2 linked regions of the Homo sapiens genome follow. The protein of the gene in region 1 interacts with the protein of each later gene in a biochemical or structural test. Each region holds a gene or a part of one and is shown on either strand. Other genes may lie near its edges.

The links. The genes of interacting proteins can lie anywhere in the genome.
Region 2: of the proteins of CLK1 (region 1) and CFAP251, one has a biochemical effect on the other in vitro, tested with the Homo sapiens proteins (one large-scale study listed by BioGRID).

Annotation. Positions count from the first base shown.
Region 1 is NC_000002.12:200,854,659-200,858,158, forward strand, and holds part of CLK1 (dual specificity protein kinase CLK1), read right to left. Parts: intron 3,432-3,500; coding exon 3,315-3,431; intron 3,227-3,314; coding exon 3,060-3,226; intron 2,328-3,059; coding exon 2,233-2,327; intron 2,154-2,232; coding exon 2,024-2,153; intron 429-2,023; coding exon 346-428; intron 38-345; coding exon 1-37. UniProt on the Homo sapiens protein: Dual specificity kinase acting on both serine/threonine and tyrosine-containing substrates.
Region 2 is NC_000012.12:121,925,092-121,928,591, reverse strand, and holds part of CFAP251 (cilia- and flagella-associated protein 251), read right to left. Parts: intron 1-3,500.

The sequences.
Region 1 (3,500 bases):
TTTCCATCATTGCTAAATGCTCCTTACTATCGTGTGTCTAGAAATAAAATAAAAACAGACTTGGGGAAGATGACCACCAAAACAGACACAGTTAAAGCTGACAGCAAAAAAACTAACATTAAGGCTTGCAGAACAAACTCGCCAATGATTCCCTACATGGACACGGATAATTGCTTATATACTGAAAGATGTTTTAAATAAAACAATTATGAAAGAAATATGAATTAGTTTATTTATGCTTATCTACAATTAATAGTCTATAATGGGGGAAGCAAAAGTATTTATTCATATAAACAGGCACCTTTCTTGTGCAAAGCAAGGTTGAAATAGATCATTGTCACTTACTGGAAATACGGTAAACCCAAGATAGTATTCAATAAGAATGCATCCTATGCTCCAGACATCACATGGTTGGGACCACCCTAGGGCTGCAAAGCAAAGCAAAATTTAAGGAAAAAAAATACTCAATGTTTGTTAAAGAAATTAAAAAGTTAGTTAACACTAATACTTTAAAAAAAAAAACACATGTAATGTAGGCTGGGCACAGTGGCTCACACCTGTAATCCCAGCACTTTGGGAGGCCAAGATGGGAGAACTGCTTGAGCTCAGGAGTTCAAGACCAGCCTGGGCAACACAGCGAGATCCCACCTCTATTAAGATATATATATATCTGAATTGGCCGGGCACAGTGGCTCACGCTACAGGCATAATCCCAGCCCTTTGGGAGGCTGAGGCAGGTGGAACACGAGGGCAGGAGATCAAGACCATCCTGACTACACGGTGAAACTCCGTCTCTACTAAAAATACAAAAACAAAATTAGCCAGGCATGGTGGCAGGCACCTGTAGTCCCAGCTACTCAGGAGGCTGAGGTGGGACAATGGAGTGAACCCCATAGGCGGAGCTTGCGGTGAGCCGAGATCGCGCCACTGCACTCTAGCCTGGGTGACAGAGCAAGACTCCGCCCCCCCCCCAAAAAATTATATATATACACATATATATGCAATGTGATGTTTGAGCTGGAAGATCCTAAAGCAATCACTTAATCCAAGGTTAAATACAATATATATGGCCGGGCGCAGTGGCTTATGCCTGTAATCCCAGCACTTTGCAAAGCCAAGGCAGGCAGATTGCTCCAGGTCAGCAGTTTGAGACCAGCCTGCCAACATGGTAAAAACCCCATCTCTACCAAAAATAAGAAAATTAACCGGGTGTGGTGGTGGGTGCCTATAATCCCAGCTACTCAGGAGGCTGAGGCAGGAGAATTGCTTGAACCCAGGAGGCAGAAGTTGCAGTGAGCCAAGATTGCACCACTGCACTCCAGCCTGGGCGACAGAGTAAGTCTCCGTCTAAAAAATAAATAAATGATAAAAATAAATAAATTATATAGTGTTATATATAGTCTGGAATAAAATAGGCATTAAACAATTTTCTGAGATGGAGTCTCGCTCTGTCGCCCAGGCCGGAGTGCAGTGGCGCAATCTTGGCTCACTGCAACCTCCGCCTCCCGGTGTTCAAGCAATTCTGCCTCAGCCTCCTGAGTAGCTGGAACTACTGACGTGTACCACCACACCCAGCTAATTTTTTGTATTTTTAGTAGAGATGGGGTTTCACCATATTAGCCAGGATGGTCTCGATTTCCTGACCATGTGGTCTGCCCGCCTTGGCCTCCCAAAGTGCTGGGATTACAGATGTGAGCCACCGCGCCCCACCCTTGGCCTCCCAAAGTGCTGAGATTACAGATGTGAGCCACCGCGCCCCACCTGGCATTAAACAATTACATTTAAAAACCCTACCACATATTACAAATGTGAAAACAATTCCAGAAAGGTTAAGCCACTTGCTCAAATTCCCAGAGCTAATTATCTGGTACAATTGAGAGCTTAAAATCCATAATGCACTTCATGATACTTATCCCTTAAAGAGAATATGATAAAGCCCCACAAGTAAGACCTAAAACTGCTAAAAAAATTTTAAGTCTCAATAAGGAAATACAAAGGTTCTCAAAGGACAATTAATACTCACCTAAAATAACTTCAGGTGCTCTATAATGTCTTGTAGATACCAATGTACTGTGATGTTCGTCATCATATGTTGCACTACCAAAGTCTACAACTTTAATATCTGGATTTATTAAGGTGCGTTCATCACGTTTCTGAAAATCATAAATGATGGTTAAGAAGGCATAAGCTATTAAGGCATAAGATACTTTATGAATATTTTGGAAGACTTACTATTTTGGGATTATACGCCTCTGTGTAGTCAGACTGCACAAATAAGATGTTTTCAGGCTTTAAGTCTGTGTGAGTCAACTTATTACTGTGCAAAACTGAGAATAAAGAGAAAGTTGCTGTAATCAGAAAACACCAAACCAAACCAAATCACAAAACCCCACAACAGGCCGGGTGCAGTGGCTCACGCCTGTAATCACCTGAGGTCAGGAGTTCGAGACCAGCCTGACCAATATGGTGAAACCCTGTCTCTACCAAAATTACAAAAATTGGCCGGGTGTGGTGGCGTGTGCCTGTAGTCCTAGCTACTCGGGAGGCTGAGGCAGGAGAATCACTTGAACTGGGGAGGCAGAGTTTGCAGTGAGTGAAGACTGCGCCACTGCACTTCAGCCTGAACAACAAAGCGAGACTCCATTTCAAAAAACAAAAAAACCCAACAAAAAACCTCTGATTCCTTTCCCAAAGAATGGTCAACATTCCAGTCTGCTAGAAAATCACCAGTAACTAAAACTTACTACCTCTTATGAAGCTTTCTTTTATGAGATATATCACGCCTTAATTTTTACCCAGCATTCGAAGTTACTATTTTTGCGCATCAGAAAAGTCTAAATCATAGTCTGCAACAAAGTACGTTGTTATATGGTGGATATCCTACTTGCTGAATGAAATGTACACTGCTGGATCAACAGCCTGTAATCAAATCTCTTCATACCTATTCTTCCTCCCCCTTTATTTTTAATCAAATAAAAATTGTACACACTTAGGATGCACATTTTGATATGTGGAATGGATAAAACCAGCAAATTAACGAAGATATACCAAGAACTTACAATTCACAGACTTGCATATCTGATATGCCATCTTTCTGATATGATCCAGTCGAAATGGTAGAAAACCATTTTCTTTAATGAAGTCGTAAGTACTAAGTCCCAATAGTTCAAAAACAATGCAAATGTGACCATGATGCTCAAACCATTCCAACATCTGGACACAGCGGCTACAAACACATGAAAAATAGCTAAGTATAGTTGCTCCTAATTTAAATATACCTGATACCACTTCCCAAGTTCTAATCTGATACTTACAAAGTACTGTTGGGGTCTGTTGTATTCAGATGTTCCAGAACTTGTATTTCTGAGCGAGCAGCTTCACAGTATCTATCCACATTTTTAACTATTTTTACTGCTACATGTCTACCTCCCCTGTTAGAAAGATGCATGCAAATTTAAGAATGACAGACATGATGCTCAATTCCAGGTATTACTGTCTTC
Region 2 (3,500 bases), on another chromosome or scaffold:
AAATGCAGTAGAGTGCTGAAAGTGATGCGTTGCGTTGCTAAGAATCAGTGAATTAAATTGGCATATAGAAACAAAATCTGGTAAGTTTCCTTTCTTATCTTTGAACAATACTTATAAAATTAAATTGTTTCTCCCCAAGACAGACATAGCAGGTAATGTGGCCAATTTCTCTCTCCTACATTCTTAATTCCCCATCCTCTCCTGTTTCCATCTGCTCATTCCCTATAATTTATATTTATATTTAGATCTCTTATTGTGTGGGTGTGAGTGGTAGAATTATGGAATCATAATTGTCTCAAGCTGCAACTTCTAGGAACAGAATTATTTAATATTTGGCTGTTTCTTAAAAGCTGATTTATTCAAATGAAATTGTTCTTTTGGAAACTTGCTAATCCTAAAAGGATCATCTTCCTGGAAATTTATTTTGCCATTTAACAAATTAGTGACAAAAAGAAAGCATTCCTAAAAGGACTCCTGTCTTCAGCCACAACAGCTCTTCCCGGGTCACCACGAGGCTGACTTCACTTAGTGGTAACAGAACAACCCCACTCGAGCAGCGTTCACAATTGTGGAAATCAAATAGTATTAATCATCGTGTTTTGCAGAAGTTTTAACATGCATGACAGATGATTATGGAGATAGCCACTGCTTACATCAATCTTTTTCTAAAACATATTAATCTGGAAAATAAAACTTTGCTGTCAAAACCAGATTTCATTGTATTTGATATTCATAAGATTCCTGCTCATAAATACATGATTGCCTTGTTTCCTAGCTGGAGGTGGGATCCACAGTCATGTCTATTTACCGTGAACAATGGGAGCTAGTACAGGCCTTAGCACTAAGGAGAGGACCCCAAAGGAAAAGGAGGATGCTGTGGACACAGGAGAGATGGAGGAGCACGTTCACTGTAGGACCTTGTGTGACAGCAAGAAATTAGAAGCAACCTAAATGGCCACAGAAAGGGGAACAGTTACATTTAAAAAGAGGAAGTGGGCTGGGCACGGTGGCTCATGCCTGAAATTCCAACACTTTGGGAGGCTGAGGTGGGTGGATCACCTGAGGTCAGGAGCTCGAGACCAGCCTGGCCTACATGGCGAAACCCTGTGTCTACAAAAATACAAAAGTTAGCTGGGTATGGTGGTGCGTGCCTATAATCCCAGCTACATGAGAGGCTGAGGCAGGAGAATCACTTGAACCCAGGGAGGCAGAGGTTGCAGAGAGCCAAGATAGCACCACTGCACTCCAGCCTGGGTGAGAGTGAGACTCCATCTCAAAAAAAGAAAAACAAAAAGAGGAAGTAGAGATACATGCACTGATACAAGAAACCTTCCAAGACATATTAAGTGGAAAAACATTTTGTAGAAATGCAGGATTATCTCACCGGTAAAAAAAAAAAAAAACCTAAACAACACAAAAACTAAATGTGAGCCATGTGCACAGGCATGGGCACACAGATAACATGTTGTACATGCACAGAACAAGGTCAGGAGAGGAGCAGTCACAGCCAACTGTGGCAGGAATTACATAGGGAAATGAGATTGGGTGGGGGTGTGTGTAGGAAGAAGAATCTTTGCCTTCAAACATGTATAAGTTGTCTGAATTTTTTACAAATAATCCTGAATAGTTTTTGTTTGTTTGTTTGTTTGAAACAGAGTCTCACTCTATTACCCAGGCTGAAGTGCAATGGCGCAATCTTGGCTCACTGCAACTTCTGCCTTCCTGGGTTCAAGCGATTCTCCTGGCTCAGTCTCCTAAGTAGCTGGGATTACAGGCATGCACCACCACGCCCGGCTGATTTTGTATTTTTAGTGGAGAGGGGTTTCACCATGTTGATCAGGCTGGTCTTGAACTCCTGACCTCAGGTGATCCACCCACCTTGGGCTCCCAAAGTGCTGGGATTACAGGTGTGAGCCACCGCGCCCGGCCAACACTGAATAGTTTTAACAAAAAGAAAAAATTGAGGCCGGGTACGGTAGCTCACACCTATAATCTCAACACTTTGGGAGGCCGAGGCGGGAGGATTGCTTGAGCTTAGGAGTTCAAGGCCAGCCTGAGAGACATAGTGAGACCCCATCTCTAAAAAAGATTTTTAAAATTAGCTGGGTGTGGTGATACACACCTGTAGTCCCAGATACTGGGGAGGCTGAGGTGGGAAGATCCATTGAACCCAGGAGACGGAGGTTGCAGTGAACCATGATCGCACCACTGCACTCCAGTCTGGGTGATAGAGTGAGAGCCTGTCTCAAAATAAACAAAAAGAAAAAAATAATAAAGGAGAAAGAGAGAAAGAAAAAGAAAGTGAAGGAAAAAGAAAGAAGAAAGAAGATACATGCAATAAGCTAAAGAAATGTCAGGAGGCTGAAGTGGGAGGATTGAGTTCTAGTCCAGCCTGGGCAACACAGCAGGGCTCTGTCTCTTAAAAAAGGCCGGGCATGGTGGCTCACGCCTGTAATCCCAGCACTCTGGGAGGCCTAGGCGGGCAGATTGCATGGTCAGGAGATCAAGACCATCCGGGCTAACACGGTGAAACTCCGTCTCTACTAAAAAAAAAAAAAAAAAAAAAAAAATTACAAAAAATTAGCTGGGCGTGGTGGTGCATGCCTGTAGTCCCAGCTACTCGGGAGGCTGAGGCAGGAGAATCACTTGAACCCAGGAGGTGGAGGTTGCAGTGATCCAAGATCACGCCACTGCACTCCAGCCTAGGTGACAGAGCAAGACTCCACCTCAAAAAATAAATAAATAAATAAAAGCTAAAGTAATTTGTAAAGGAAGACAGTCTAGAAAATTTTTGGTTCTGCCGTTTTGGTTCCGCAGTGAGACCAAGGCTAAGCGAGACCCAAAACTTGGGGGAGTGGCTCTTGCCAAGTCCAGATAGCTGTGCCCCTGACACAAAGAATACACCTTCTTAGAGACATTGCCTGATTTATGTTTGCTGGCTAAACAAGACAAGAGTCTTTGTGAGCCCTAAAGCTCAATTATTCTTTCTCTCGGAGTGAACAGTTGCAAGCTGTGGGAGAGAGGCTGTCACACGGGGCTCAAATGAAGCCCATATGCAGAAAGGAGGTTTCCAGTTGCCTGCATTTCCCTCCAGACGTCTTGCCACCGTCATCGTCATGACACACAGTTGCGGACACTTACTGAGTACTCACTATGTCTTAGGAACTACATTAAGTATTTGATATCCATTCAATCGCTTCCACATCTTCCAAAGGCATGAATCTACAGGAAGGATGAATCCTAGGAAACAATTTTCAGAAAGTAGCAGATGGAGGAAGAAGGAAAAAACTCCTCCTTTTCCTTCTCCTGGTAAATGATAATATTTTTACTCCTCGCAGATGGTGCCTCCCTGGAATATTTTCAGCAGTGGCAAAGGCAGATTCCTCTGGACTGCCTGGGGCTTTTCACTGCGGCTTTCACTCCTCCATTACCTTCCACTCTGGGACCCTCTTGGAATGGATGGTTTTGGGGTCATGTAAAGATAAAGGCAGAAGAGGTGA